2 linked regions of the Homo sapiens genome follow. Each later gene encodes a partner of the first gene's protein in a complex. Each region holds a gene or a part of one and is shown on either strand. Other genes may lie near its edges.

Region 1 (7,235 bases):
TTGTTCCAGTATACACAGATTTCTTAACTTCTCTGTCATTTTTACAGAATCTCCTGACTAACAAAGTGGATCGCTCCTTTTTGCTTTTAAAAGCGTCTTCTTCTACATCATCACAATTATCAGGGAAGTCCTCAAAATGGCTCAAAAAGGTCTTGGCAGCTTGACTGTCAGTAAAGTCTTTCCTACAAAAGCTATCACCTGAATATACCATGTCAACCTTCTCACAAGAGCCTTCAAAGCAAAAGTATTTATCATTCAAGGTGTCACAATGATCACACTGCAGCTGCTCATTCTTATTATCACAATTTTTGGCCAATTCCATCAGTTTACAGGTATATGCCACATAGTTTTTCTTTTGCTTCTCCTCACCCCCAGGTAGTGGTACACAATTTCCACAATCGTCTAAAATTAAGTTTTCTGATAGGGTACAGAAAGTGTCTGACATTCTTCTGTCAACTTCATAATGAAAATGAAATACTGCCCTTCTGCTGTCAGGGTGTGCTCTGCCTGTCTCTATGATCACTGACTGATTTCCTAAAGGACTAATGCCCATGGAAGGTCTGTCTAGTTCCAGTTGAATTCCAGGGAACACCTTTCTTTCCAGTGGAGAAGGAATTCCAGTTTCTAAACACAAGTCTTCCTCAGCAACAGAGTTGTACATTTCATAAAATTGTCTCTGAGGAAGGCCATGCTGATGGTTTCTCAATATGTTGTTGCAGTTAATGTTAAGGTTTTTCGCAGAATCTGGCATGATTTTCTCCCAACATTTTTCATTACTGTTCTCATCACTCACTATTTTCTCCCTCGCTATTGAGAGAATCTTTGGCAAGTTGCTTCCAGAAGGTTCTTCTTTAAGTTTGTTCAGTTGTGAGATGGTATGAGAAGTCTCCCCACTTCGTCTGACAGTATGTGCTTTTGAAATATTGATGTCTGAGACCTTTTCACTACTTTCATCTGCAGCCGACTGGGCAGAAACCACTTTTCTCTGAGTCACAGGTATGAGAACAGAAGCTGTCATTTCTTCAGAAGTCATCTTGGACTAACACACAGGTTTTGACTATTGCTCTATTTTTCCTCCCTGGTGATCATGTCAAGGTTTTAATAAAATGACTGATTATTACAACAATCTCAGATACACAAGTCCTCCCAAAGAACAAAGGGATAATTCCTTTCATTCAGGAGCATTAAGAGGCAAATAAATTTTCTTAGTTATAACTTCCTATCATGAATATATATTTTTTCTAGATCAGGGTTTTAAGGTGGTAGATCAATTTTCCTTCCTCTGTTACCTGAAGCAAAATTTTTTGAAGACTTTTACTCGGGATTGCACTCTGCAACTTCTGATCCATCACTGATTTGCAATGATTTTAAAATCCAGTTTGAATGATTCCTGTTTCCTGTAAGAAAAGAGATAATGTCAAACACTGTGGCACTCAGTGAGTTTTTAAAAAAATGATCTCACAATCCTAAGATACAGACAATTTTGAGAAAAAAGGTTTTTTTTTGCAATCAGAAGTTGGTTTTTATGTTTTTAGTATTTTTTTTTTATTTAATGTTTCAGAACTTCTGCTTCCAGCCAAAATGGAGTAACAAGGGCAAGATTTATTCATCCACCTTAAATAACTAAAAAGAAAATCAGAAAAAAACCCAGTGGTTTTCAGATATTGAACAACGAGCAACACAGACATTGATGTCTGAAAGAAGAAAAAAAAAAGAAGTGAGCCCTATAAATGCCCTAGCTTACTGCTTAGAAAGTTTCCAGGCAACAAGGCAAGGAAGGGAAACTCAGATAAAATCCAACAATTTACCTGAGTAGAAGAGAAATAGTTAAGACTTCAGGGAGGCCAAGGAAGCTAGAGAAATAAGGCACATTAAGCAAAGAGGCACAAAGATAAGAATGACAGCAGACTTTTAATCAGAAACAATGCAATCCAGAAGAGAGTGGACAAATCTTTAAAGTACTGAAAGAAAAACTACTGTCAACTTCAAATTCTATACCCAGCAAAAATGTCTTCTGCAAATAAAAATTAAGTAAAAACTTTTCCAGGCATATAAAGCTGAAATAACTTATCACTAACAAGCCTGCACTGCTTGTAACTCTGTTAGTAGAGAGAGGGAATCAAAAAAATTTCTATCCAATGTGGAAACACAATTATAAAGGATATACAAGGCACTATAGGACTAGAAGGTGCCCATGATGAGCATATCATTCCCTTCCAGGAGAAGCAGTTGCTCCCGAGAAAACTAATCAGCAGTCACGCTCTGCTGCCAACACCAGCTTTGCCTTGCCTTTGCTCTTTGACAAATAGATGTCTTTCTTCCCCTTGCTTCTCCCGTACCCTCTTTTCCCAAAGAGTCATCAACTACCCCTTAATCCCTTCTATATGTGTTCCCTCAAGCACAAACACAGCCTCAAGGGTGAGAGGCTCCCAGTATATTCATGTCTCTACAACTACTCTGAAAAATCACTGGAAACCCTAGAAATCATATTCTTTGCAGGGAATAAACCAGCCCACACAGAGCAGCAGTGTCCTAGCTCAACATCCTAACAAATCCTATCACACAGCAATAACTATTATCAATACTTTCAGAAACCTCCTTCCAGAACACTCCCTATGCATCAACATACATAGAGATATATGTGTATAACTATGCAAATACCAGATAATGTTGGTCATTCTGTTCTGTACCTGCTTTTAAAAATTCAAAGCACACCATGAACAACTTTTCAGGTCAAGATTATATAGATAATTTTAGTGGCATATGGCACTAACTTGAATTCAAATATCTGCTCTATTTTTTAAAGAGATTTTTCAGGCCAAAGCCTTCAGATTGACAGCTAATATGTCCTTTCTTACCCATGAGGTAAGCAATTCAAAGGAGGAGAAGGGGAAAACATTTTTGGTGATGCTTAGGTCCTGTTCTAAGGACTTTGTAATTATTGTTGTTATTATAATTATAAATATCATCATCATCATCATAATTTTGAGACAGAGTCCCATTCTGTTACCAGGCTGAAGTGCAATGGCACAATCACTGCTTGCTGCAACCTCTGCCTCCTGGATTCAGCAGTCACATACTGTTCCTTCTATCATATTCTATATGTTAGAAGGAATTACTAAGTATAACCCACATTCAAGGGGAGGGGAATTAGGGTCCACCTTTTGAAAGGAGAAATATCAAAGAATTTGTGGACATATTTTAAAACCAGCCTGGGTTCAAGTGATCCTCCCACCTCAGCCTCCCAAGTAGCTGAGACTATAGCACTGCGCTTGGCTAATTTTTGTATTTTTTGTAAAGACAGGGATTCACCATGTTGCCCAGTCTGGTCTTGAATTTCTGGGCTCAAGCGATCCTCCCATCTTAGCCTCCCAAATTGCTGGAATTACAGGTGTGAGCCACTGTGCCCGGCCACTTTGCAATTATTATCTTGTGTAATTCTCACTCAATACTACAAGATAGTGTGATGGTTTTAAAATATGTCCACAAATTCTTTGATACTCCTCTCTTCACAAGGTGGAGCCTAATTCCCCGCCCCTTGAATGTGGGTTATACTTAGTGGCTTCCCTCTAATGTATGGAATGTGGTAGAAGGAACAGTACATGACTGCTGAGAATCAGTCATGAAAGTCATTGGAGCTTCCTCCTTGCTACTCCTCTCTCGCATGCTCTGGGGGTAATCTGCTGCCATATTGTAAGAAGAGATCCCTGTGGAAAGTATGGAGGACTCTTGACAACACCCATGTGAGTGCGCCATCTTGGAAGCGGATCCTCCAGCTATAGTCAAGGCTTTAGATGATTGTATCTGCAACCTATATCTTGACTGCAACCACATGACAGACCCTCAGACAGATAAGCCTCGTCCCAAATTCCTGACCACAGAAACTGTGAGATGATAAATGTTTATTGCTTTGAGCCACTACATTTTGGGCTAATATGCTACACAGTGATAGATAACTAATACAAATAATTTCTGCTATCCACATTTGAAAGAGTAGAAACCAAAGCAAAGAAAAGCTAAGTGAATTGCCAAAGATCCCTCCACTGGAAAATGATTGAGACAGGATTCAAATCCAAGAAGACTGACTACAGAATCTCTTCTCTTAGCCATAGACTATGCTGTTTTATCTTCCATCTAGTCTGAAGCCCTATGGGTTTGGGTTTCTGATGTCTTCTAGCTATGAAGACCCATGGCTGCTAGGAGAAGCCTTTCATTTTTTATTTTTTATCTTATTTATTTATTTATTTATTTATTTATTTTGAGATGGAGTCTCACTCTGTCGCCAGGCTGGAGTGCAGTGGCATGATCTTGGCTCACTACAACCTCCACTTCATGGATTCAAGCGATTCTCCTGCCTCAGCCTCCTGAGTAGCTGGGACTACAGGCATGTGCCACCACGCCCAGTTAATTTTTTGTATTTTTAGTGGAGACGGGGTTTCACCATGTTAGCCAGGATGGTCTCGATCTCCTGACCTTGTGATCCGCCCACCTTGGCTTCCCGAAGTGCTGGAATTACAGGCATGAGCCACCAAGCCCAGCCAAGAAGCTTATCTTATATGTGGCTTTGTCTCTGGAAGGCTGAGGATATACACAGACATCGAAGCAATGGTCTTTGCTTTGCCTCCAGCTTACTATCATGAATCATGGATGAGCAACATTACAGGGAGCAGACTTTATAGAGCACTAGACTTGGTTCAATCTCAGACCATTCCTTTATTCAGCAAATATTTGTTGAGTACACAATTAAATAAGGCAGGGATCTTGTCCTGGATTTCCTTACCATCTGATAAGTCACCAAAGTACAGTGTAAATAGAGCTATAATCTGCATTAACACAGAGGAAGAACATCTAAAGCAGACAGTGCTGATGGGGTGGGAGTGATTTCCAGGGAGGGTTTCCTTCACAAGAAGACAACTCAGTTGAGTTTCAAAAGATAAGTAGGAAGTAGTTAGATAAACAGGTGGGGTGGAGTTTTCAGGGAAGAGCAAATATGGGCAGTCATAAAAAGAAAACAGTCAGACATTGGGGTCTGGTATCTCAGGTAAAAATTTTAACCACTTTGGGGTTTGATTTCTTCTTCTGTAAAATAGAAATAAAATCACCTACTCCATCAGGTTGTGAAGGAAATACTTTGAAATCCAAAAATTCAAGGCAAATGTTTATTATTCTATGCCTTGAAATATCTTGGTAAGAAAGAACAACCAAGGTCTGGCAGCTCTGTTGTATCAGTGAAATGGCATTGAATTTACTGTACCAGATACACACCCTTCACTAGGTCCACTCCAATTTTAATTTCAGTTCTATATCTGGGATCAACTCCTTAAATCTAAGCTGCATGATCCTGAGCTGATTAAATTATCAATTTTGAGATATACTTTCCACATCTATAATATTGAGATGAAATATATATATACATTTTGTATGTCAGCAGCAGCTGACCCATCAATAACTGTTAACTTTCTATTTACTCACTCTTGGTCAGCTCTAGGTTGTTTTTAAGGGAAGCTGGCTAGGTTAGGTTAGATTTAGAGTTATAGTGGCATTCAACTGTTGGCTAAAGATAACCTAAAGCACTGAATGAAGAACATAGTCTAGTGGGTTTGAAGAAGAAAAAGATGGAAAAAGGGATTCTTCTTTTCTTAGTGTGAACAGGTTTATGGGGGAGATTGGATAAGTGCCAGCCTGGGAGAGGTCAAAGGTTGTGTGGGCTAAAAATATGGCAGAACAAGAGGGTACCTGTCAAGATAGTATGTCCAATCTTGAGATATTTGGGGATAGGTAATATGACTAAAGAAATGACTGGCCAGGAAGTCGATCTATGGAGATGCAAGAATTGCTGGAAATTCTAGCCAAAGCATTAAGACAAGAAAAATAAATGAAAGGTATAAGCAGAATCAGGAGTGACAGGGTAAGTTTTCAGCTTCAGGAGAGGGGACTATGGGCCAGGAATAATCCTGTTGATGGGTGTTTTCATGGGCTAAATCAAGGGCTGGAAAACTACATACTGAGTCCCAAATCTGGTAAGCCATCTGTTTTTGTAAATGAAATTTTATTGGAACACAGCCACATCTATTTATTTATGTCATGTCTGTAGCTGCTTTTGCATTATAATAGTAGAGCTGAAAAGTGGTAACAAATACCATATGGTCTACAAAGCCGAAAATATTTGCCATCTGGCTCTTTACAGAAAAGTCTGCCAGTCCATGTACTAGATAAATAATGAATTAATGAAATGCATGGTTAGAGCAAGAAAACTATGTGGGAGGCTTGATAGCCATCTTTATTTATTTGAAGAATTGAGATGAGGAAATGGGCTCATCTCATATTCTTTCAAAAGGGAGGATCAGGACTAAGACATGAATTATAAGAGAGGTAAGCTTTGGATCCGTCTGATAAAGATTTCCCTAACTTTTAGAGCTTTTCAACAAAGGGTGGGCTATCTTGGATGATGGCCTTCTTTCAGTTACTGATAGATTTAAACAGAGGCACATTATTCAGCATCAGGGATGCTCAATATATGCTGAACAAATAAACAGAGAGAATTTAGAATGACAGAGTAAAAATGGATGACTGTATACCAAGGGTAATTATAAAAACAATGACCTAATACTGAGCATGTATTATCTATCAGGCATGTTCTAAGCACAGAATACATACTATCTCATTTAATCTTTACAACATTATCAGTAGGGTGGCAGAGACTCCTAATTTCCCCCCAAAATCTGTTCTCATTTCCTCAGTAGTAGAACCTCTGAATTTGACCTAAGCATATGGATATTCCTTTATTAGCCTCCCTTACAGCTAGATGTGGCCATGGGACTAAGTTACAGCCAAAGAGATATAAGCAAAGTGGTTTGCAATTTCTGGAAAGAGAGCTTGAAGGAATAGAGTCTGCCCTTTTCCTGCCCCTCTTTCTTCTGCTGCTGATTGGAAGAAAGGCATGATAGCCAGAGCTGGAGCAGCCATCTTAGATTGTGAGGTGAACATGAGAATGAATGTCATGTATAGGAAAAAAAAAACAAGATAGAAACCTGACTGCCTGTTTCCGGGACTTAGGGGAGGGAAAAAAAATTCTATCTTGTTTAAGCCACCATTGTCTTGGGTTTTCTGTCACTCACATCTAAATCTTTTCCTAACTAAAACTAAAAAGGTGGGGGTAGTATTATTATCATACCTATTTTAGGAATAAGGCTCAGAATGCTTGAATGACTTGTCCAAGAGTACAGAAGAGTGAA
Region 2 (7,124 bases), on another chromosome or scaffold:
GGATGTTCAAGACAGTCTGTGCACAGCCTCCCTGGGAGGGTCTGCAGTCACCTCGGCCCACGGTCCCGGGGTGACTGGGCTCCAGCAGCCCTTCCTTCCTTCCTTGCTTCCGTCCTTCCTTCCTCCTCCTTCCGTCTGCACCTCCTTCCTGCATCCGGCACCTCCATGTCCTGAGCTTGTGCTGGGCGGGGCACAAGGGAGGCTGCTGACCGCAGGCCAGGAGACCGGCAGGGGCGGGGAGCCGGGGTCATCCGGTGGGCGTGGCGGCCGCCCTGGGAGTCCCCCTCACCTGCGTCAGGAGAGCACACACTTGCAGCTCATGCAGCCGGGGCCACTCTCATCAGGAGGGTTCAGCTTCCGCAGCTTGTGCTGCCGGATCTCACGCACCAACGTGTAGAAGGCATCCTCCACTCCCTGGGAAAGGAGGGATGGGATCAGGAGGGACCGGCCTGTGGCCGCCTGCCTGGGTGAGGGGCTCCCTGCTGTGGGATCAAGCCTTGCCTGGCCCGAAGCTCCCGACTCCACCAGCCACTTCCCCAGGCCCACCACACACACGGGAAGCTGGACTCTGGCCATCTCGAAGTGCCCAGGGCCACCCGCATCATGCTACAGCAGCCCCTCAAAGGTCAGGGTGGCCCGGGGCCCTCCTGAACTCCAGGTCTGGCCAGGGTTTGACCACCCTGCACCCAGCTCTCGACTCAGCTACGGCCCGTGTCCCCAGTAGCCCCACTAAGACTCAGAACCAACAGGTGCCCGTGGGACACTCTGGGGACAAGAGGGGCCGGGCCCCAGGGTCACCGCTCCGGCCTGGCTCAGGGCAGCTCTCCCCAAGGACCTCCGCCTTCCCCGGAGCTGTGTCGGCCCAGGACTGCAGGGCGTGAGCCCAGACCCCGGCCCTCGCCTCCCTCACTGCCCTGCCGTCCCGGGAGACTTACAGCGCGAGGGGCCGCTGGGTCACATGGGTCCCGGGGGGTCCCAGAGGGTCCCGGAGCTGGAGCTAGAGCCAGAGCGGCTGCCCTGTGTCAAGGGAGAGGGTCAGTGAGTGCTGCTCCCTGGCTGGGGCGGGGCGGGGCGGGTCCCTGGCTAGCTGTGGGGTGGAGAGCTGCCTCACCTGCCGGGTCTTGGCCGAGGTCTCGATGTAGGGGATGCCGTAGCTTCGGGCGAGGTCCTGAGCCTGCCGAGATTCCACAGTGCGTGCAGCCAGGTCACACTTGTTCCCCACCAGCACCATGGGCACGTCATCCGAGTCCTTCACCCGTTTGATCTGCTCCCTGAGAGGTGGAAAGCGAGAGCTGGCTACGGGGGCTGCAGGCGCAGCGGCATCCAGGACATGCGCAGAGAGGACAGGAGGCCCCTGCCTGGACGCAGCCGGCCTGGCCCCACCTGTGCGGCGTGGGCTCCCGGGCCAGCCTCACGGGGTTCACCTGTACTGGTGGATGTCCTCAAAAGACTTGGTGTTGTTGATGGCAAACACACACAGGAAGCCCTCCCCGGTGCGCATGTACTGGTCCCGCATGGCGCTGTACTCCTCCTGGCCGGCGGTATCCAGGATGTCCAACAGGCACGTCTCCCCATCAATGACCACCTGCTTCCGGTAGGAATCCTGCAGGAGGACAGGGCTCAGGGACCCCCTCAGGACCTTCCGTGGGGGGAGTTCACACAGCCAGCCTCTCCCTGGTACCTCTCATGCCCCTCATGCCCCCTCCTCTCCTGGGGTGCTGAGACGAGGGACTCCCCTCCTCTAGAGGAAGCAGGAGACAGGGCCACAGCACCATGCAGGGGACCAGGGGCTGCAGCCAGCCCTATCCTGGCTGTGTCCTGGGCTCGCCCGCAGCAGCTGCTGGCACCTGGACGGCGGCGCCAGGCTCACCTCTATAGTGGGGTCGTATTCGTCCACAAAATGGTTCTGGATCAGCTGGATGGTCAGCGCACTCTTGCCCACACCGCCGGCGCCCACCACCACCAGCTTATATTCCGTCATCGCTCCTCAGGGGCCTGCGGCCCGGGGTCCTCCTACAGGGTCTCCTGCCCCACCTGCCAAGGAGGGCCCTGCTCAGCCAGGCCCAGGCCCAGCCCCAGGCCCCACAGGGCAGCTGCTGGCAGGGCCATCTGAAGGGCAAACCCACAGCGGTCCCTGGGCCCCAACGCCAGGCAGCAAGGACTGCAGCGTGCCTACCTGTGCAGCTGCAACCCAGCGTGCGGGAGGGCTGTCGCCTCGCCCCCACTTGCTCTTAATGACCCAGTGATGGGAAAAGGGACCCAGCCCTCAAAGGCAGGGCTGACAGCTGAGCGCTCTCAACCACGCACCCAAATTAGAAGCTGCTGGGTCGGCAGAAAGGCTAAAGGGAGGCGCCCGAGGGCTGAGGTTACCGTCCTCCAGAACAGGTCTGGCCACGGCGGAGCGCGCCACGGCGTGCCCGGGCAGGCTAGTGCCAGCCTGCAGGCCCCGCGGCGCTGGTGCCTCCGACAAGTATTTGCTGAGCGCCTACTGCGTACTAGGCGCCGCCGAGGGGAGGGCAGACCCGGGCAGCGCCCCGCACCCCCGGCGGGGAACCGGGGGCATCTTTCAGCCACAGAAAGCTGGAGAAGACAGAGGAGCTCCTGGGAAGCAGGGACTGAGCGACAGGAAGGGGCCGAGAAGCGGCGCGGGAGACCCGGAGAGGGAAAAGGCACTGGGGCTGAGGCCCCCGGCCTGGTCCGCGACCTGTGATGCTGAATCGGGGGTGCCCGGGCGTGCCGTGGCCGCGGCCGCCTCCTCCCAGACGCCCCCGGGTGTGAGGGCGCCGGGCCCGAGGCTCCCGGGTACGCCGGCGTGGGGACCGTGCCCAGCGCGAGGCCACGGGTGGGGCCCGGATTCCCGCAGGCCCCAGGGAGGAAGGGGCCCCCGCCCGCCGCAGCCCCCGACGCCCGCTCACCTGTGCCCGCGGGCCCCGCCCGGCCCCACCCACCCGCCGCCGCCGCCGCCGCCGCCGCTTACGCCCGCCGGCCCCGCGCCCCCGGCCCGCGCCGCGCGTATTGCTGCCGCCTGGGGGCGAGGAGGGCGCGCGGCCCGGCCGATCCCTGCCCGCACTCACCGTTCACAGGCGCGACTGCCCCCGGGGCCAGGGCCGGGGCCGAGGCCGGGGCGGGGCGGGGGCGGGGGCGCGCGGTTCGCCCCGCGCATGGGCTCCGTCCGCGGCGGGTGCGGCTCGGGTTGCGGGCGCAGGGCACGGGCGGCGGAGACTCGGGCGGGCCTGCGCACGCCCCGCCCCGCGCCCGTCCGTCTGCCAGGCGCGGCCTACCATTGGCTGCGCGCCATCGGGCCCCGCCCCACCCCGGTTGGCTGAGCGGCCCGTCTGTCAGGAGCCGCGGTCGGGCGGGGCTTCCGGGAGCAACGCGGGAGGCGGAGCCAGTAGGGCCGCGGCCTCTCGGGGTTGGGCTTGGCTGGAGACCGGAGCCGAGCTCGGGGTTGCTCGAGGAAGGCCAGGGAGCCGGTGTCTGGGGGCCCGGGGCGGCATCTCCGAGCAGGGCCCCGGGCTCTCCCGGGAACAGGCCGGCGAGAGAACCCGACTCAGCGGTGCCGGTGCACCAGAGGCCCTCCCTGCGCCGGCAGCGCGGCGCCGCCCACCGCGGAGGTCCCGGGGCTACGGGCTGGGGAAAGGCTGGGATCCGCCGGGACCAAGGCGGGATGCTCGGAGCTGGGGGCCCCCGGGTGGCCGCGGGGTCCGGTTGCCCGGCTGCCCTTCCGCGCAGGTGGAGCGGCCGCGCACCCCACCTACCACCACGCACCCCAGCTCCCCTACTCCCACCGCAACCCACCCCGAGGACGCTTGCAGCCCCGGTGGGGTTCCGGGCGGCGGGCGCAGCCGTGTGCCCTGGGGCCAGGCGTGAGAACGCCCCCTCCACCACTCTCCTCTTTCTCGGGCCTGCGTGGCAGGCGACCCTGCCCGCCCAGTCCCCCCAAACTTGAGGTTCCAACGCTGCAGAAGCTCAGCGTGGTCCAGTTAAACCGTACCCACAAGTTGCCACAGGGGAGCGAAGTGCCCAGGGCTCACCCCAAGCACATAGACGCACATCCTAGCTCTTTCAAACCCAAAAAGACATGTTTTTAACATTTTTTAAAATTGCAAAGGAATCAGAAATACATCCTCATTAAAAAACAAAAAGGGCCGGGCGCGGTGGCTCACGCCTATAATCCCAGCACTTCGGGAGGCCTAAGCGGGTGGATTACTTGAGGTCAGGAGTTCAAGACCAGCCTGGCCAACATGATGAAACCCTGTCTCTACTAAAAACACAAAAAATTAGTCGGCTGCAGTGGCGCGCGCCTGTAGTCCCAGCTACTCGGGAGGCTGAGGCAGGAGAATCGCTGGAACCCGGGAGGCGGATGTTGCGGTGAGCCGAAATCGCGCCACTGCACTGGGCAACAGAGCGCTACTTCGTCTCAAAACAAAAAAGGCGTTTTACAGTCAGGCAAACCCTGCCTCTGCCCAGTCCAGCGCCCGCCTCGCCCTCCTGCGCCGGTCGCTGCTGACCCGGGGCTCCACCCACGTGCGGTCCCGGGGGTCCCGCCTGCCGTCCGTCCACCGCGCGGTCGCAGTCAGAGCTCGGCTCGGGGCGGACACGCATGAACGCGAGTGAGAAGCGGCGACTGGACGGCGGGCGGCAGCGTGTCCCGCGGGCCGGGCACTCGGGTGCGCTCCGGCGTCCGGTGTGTGTTTCCTGGTCCTCGGGGGCGCTTCCCCCGGTGCTTCCTTTTGCCGTCGGCCTCACTTCCAACCGAAGGTCAGGACGGCAGGCCTCGGCCCCAGGGGCGACCCTTCCACCTGGGAAAGGTGGGCGCGAGCCTCCAGCAGAGACCGCCTTTACCCGCCCCGCGTGGGAAGCGCCAGGATCGCGAGGAAACGCGACACGTGCATCGCGACGGCCCAGGCACGGAGCCGCAGGAAGCTGGCACCTGACGCGCCTGCGCCCACCCAACTCGAGTTGGTGGCGCGTCACCTTCCCCTGGGATCGCCCGCAGCAGGGGCGCCCACGCACGTGCCAGTCCACGTGGCCCCGCCCTAGCGACCGTTGCTAAGGGGCGTGGCTCAGCCGCACGGAACCCGAGCCCCCGGCGACTTATAAATATTTGCGTATTCAAATGAGGCCTGGCTCCCGTTGCTATGGCGCCCAGGCCGCAACCCCGCGGCGGCCGGAAGAACAGCCTGGAGTAGGAGACAGCGCCTGGAGGTGGAGGGCGCCCAGGGCCGAGCTGCCAGGGCCGGACACCTAGGCTGAGCCCTCAGGTGAGAGCCGAGCGCACCCTTGGGGTGGGAGCCGCAAGCCTCGCCCTATGACCGGTGCCAGGAGGGAACCTGCGCCGAGGCGTGGGCGCGGGGACGAAGCAGCACAGCCATCGGGGACCCAGTGATGGCCCCGCATGTCAGATCTGGTCCCCTGAGGACCCTTGCCTCCACCACCCCCTGGCCCTGCACTGAAAGGGCTCCCTGTCAGGAGACAGGAGGGGCCCCAAGCCCTGCCCCTGAGGGAGACTCAGAGGCAATGACCCAGGGTGCTCAGGGTTCCAGGGTGGGGCTCAGGAGGGGAGCGGGCTCTGCCTTCCGAGCCCCCATGGTGAAGGGGCGAGGGCAGCAGGGGACCCAGAGGTGATGGCTACCCACCAGGGAATGGCACTAGCAGGGGTGTGGAGACAGGCCCCCCAGTTACCAATTTGGGGAGCATGGGGGCTTGCAGAGGGGACACAGGGTGGGAGCAGGGCCGTGAAGTGTGTGGATGGGTTCAGGCCTGGGTGAGAACACTAGGTGCAGTGTCTGAGGTGGGAGTTCAATGGGGTCTTTGGATCCCACAGCCTCCAACCCCTTGCACCCCCAGGCCTTGGGGCTCAGACCAGTCTGATGCTTGGGGCTCTTGGGCACAGAGGAGACAAGGGTAGCTGACTCAGCCCTTAGTGTCACCCATAGGTGTCCAGGGGCTGCCCGTGACCCCGCCAGCTCACGCCCTCCATGAGGCTCGAGGCTGGCAGGCCTGGGATGGAGGTGGCCAGAGTCTTTGGGGGGATGCAGTGTTGGGGTCCTGCTGTGAGGCCTGGGGCCTTGCACTGGCTGGAGAAAGGCAGGCAGTGGGGGAGATTTGGGCTGGAAACTCCATGAGATTCTGCTTTGGGCTTCACTTCTTTGATCCTTGGTGCATGGTCACCTTCCAGACCAGGCCAGTGAGGCACCCAGAGCCTGAGCCACTGCCCCGCTCCAACACTCCCACCCACCACCTCTGTCAACAGCCGGCCAACTCGCCTGGCACAGGGGCAGCTCTAGACGGGATGGAGAGGATGCATCTTCAGTGTCCACACGTGGTCAACAGATAAAAGCCATGGCCAGAACGTTCTAAGTGGCTACATGTGCATCTGCCTGTTCACGGATTCCTTCGACAAATATTTGAGCATCCCCTCCTGCGACTGTGGACAGCAGAGGAGCACGCAGGCCACGTGCAGGCCACGTGCAGCCCACAGCTCTGGGGCGAGGCAGGCCCTCAACCGAACACGTAGTAAGACACACAGGGCTCCGAAGGGAACTCGTCTCATCAGGAAGATAAATCTGGGAAGGCTGGGTGGGGAGTGCAGTCAGGGGATCAGTCCAGGTCCAGACTGAAGACACATGAAGGTGGTCAGGGAGGAGGACACTGGACGCTCCGAGCACACTTGTCACTCCACGCCTGGAGCTCATGATTCCAGGGCCTGGGGCCGAGGCAGATGTCTGCATCTTTGTTTGTTTGTTTGTTTTTTGAGATGGAGTCTCTCTCTGTCGCCCAGGCTGGAGTGCAGTGGTGCCATCTTGGCTCACTGCAAGCTCCACCTCCTGGGTTCATGCCATTCCCCAGCCTCAGCCTCCCAAGTAGCTGGGACTACAGGCGTCCGCCACCACGCCTGGCTAACTATGTTTTTTGTATCTTTAGTAGAGATGGGGTTTCACCTCGTTAGCCAGGATGGTCTTGATCTCCTGATCTTGTGATCTGCCCGCCTCAGCCTCCCAAAGTGCTGGGATTACAGGTGTGAGCCACCGCACCCAGCCTTTTTTTTTTTTTTTTTTGAGACAGAGTCTTGCTCTGTTGCCCAGGCTGGAGGACAGTGGCGCGATCTTGTCTCACTGCAA

The links.
Region 2: the proteins of PLCE1 (region 1) and HRAS are in contact, whole or in part, in a crystal structure (PDB 2C5L), measured with the Homo sapiens proteins. Residues at the interface, in NP_057425.3 of Homo sapiens: Phe2138, Pro2146, Glu2147, Gln2148, Pro2149, Arg2150, Thr2151, Val2152, Ile2153, Lys2154, Lys2171, Tyr2174, Ser2175; in NP_001123914.1 of Homo sapiens: Ile24, Gln25, His27, Val29, Glu31, Asp33, Ile36, Glu37, Asp38, Ser39, Tyr40, Arg41, Glu63, Tyr64.

The regions. Positions count from the first base shown.
Region 1 is NC_000010.11:94,024,845-94,032,079, reverse strand, and holds part of PLCE1 (1-phosphatidylinositol 4,5-bisphosphate phosphodiesterase epsilon-1), read right to left. Parts: intron 1,398-7,235; 5' UTR 1,034-1,397; coding exon 1-1,033. UniProt on the Homo sapiens protein: The production of the second messenger molecules diacylglycerol (DAG) and inositol 1,4,5-trisphosphate (IP3) is mediated by activated phosphatidylinositol-specific phospholipase C enzymes.
Region 2 is NC_000011.10:532,342-539,465, forward strand, and holds the start of HRAS (GTPase HRas), read right to left. Parts: upstream 3,236-7,124; 5' UTR 3,075-3,235; intron 2,035-3,074; 5' UTR 1,982-2,034; coding exon 1,871-1,981; intron 1,604-1,870; coding exon 1,425-1,603; intron 1,272-1,424; coding exon 1,112-1,271; intron 1,018-1,111; coding exon of another isoform or gene 936-1,017; intron 415-935; coding exon 295-414; 3' UTR 290-294; exon of another isoform or gene 182-289; 3' UTR 1-181. UniProt on the Homo sapiens protein: Involved in the activation of Ras protein signal transduction. Ras proteins bind GDP/GTP and possess intrinsic GTPase activity.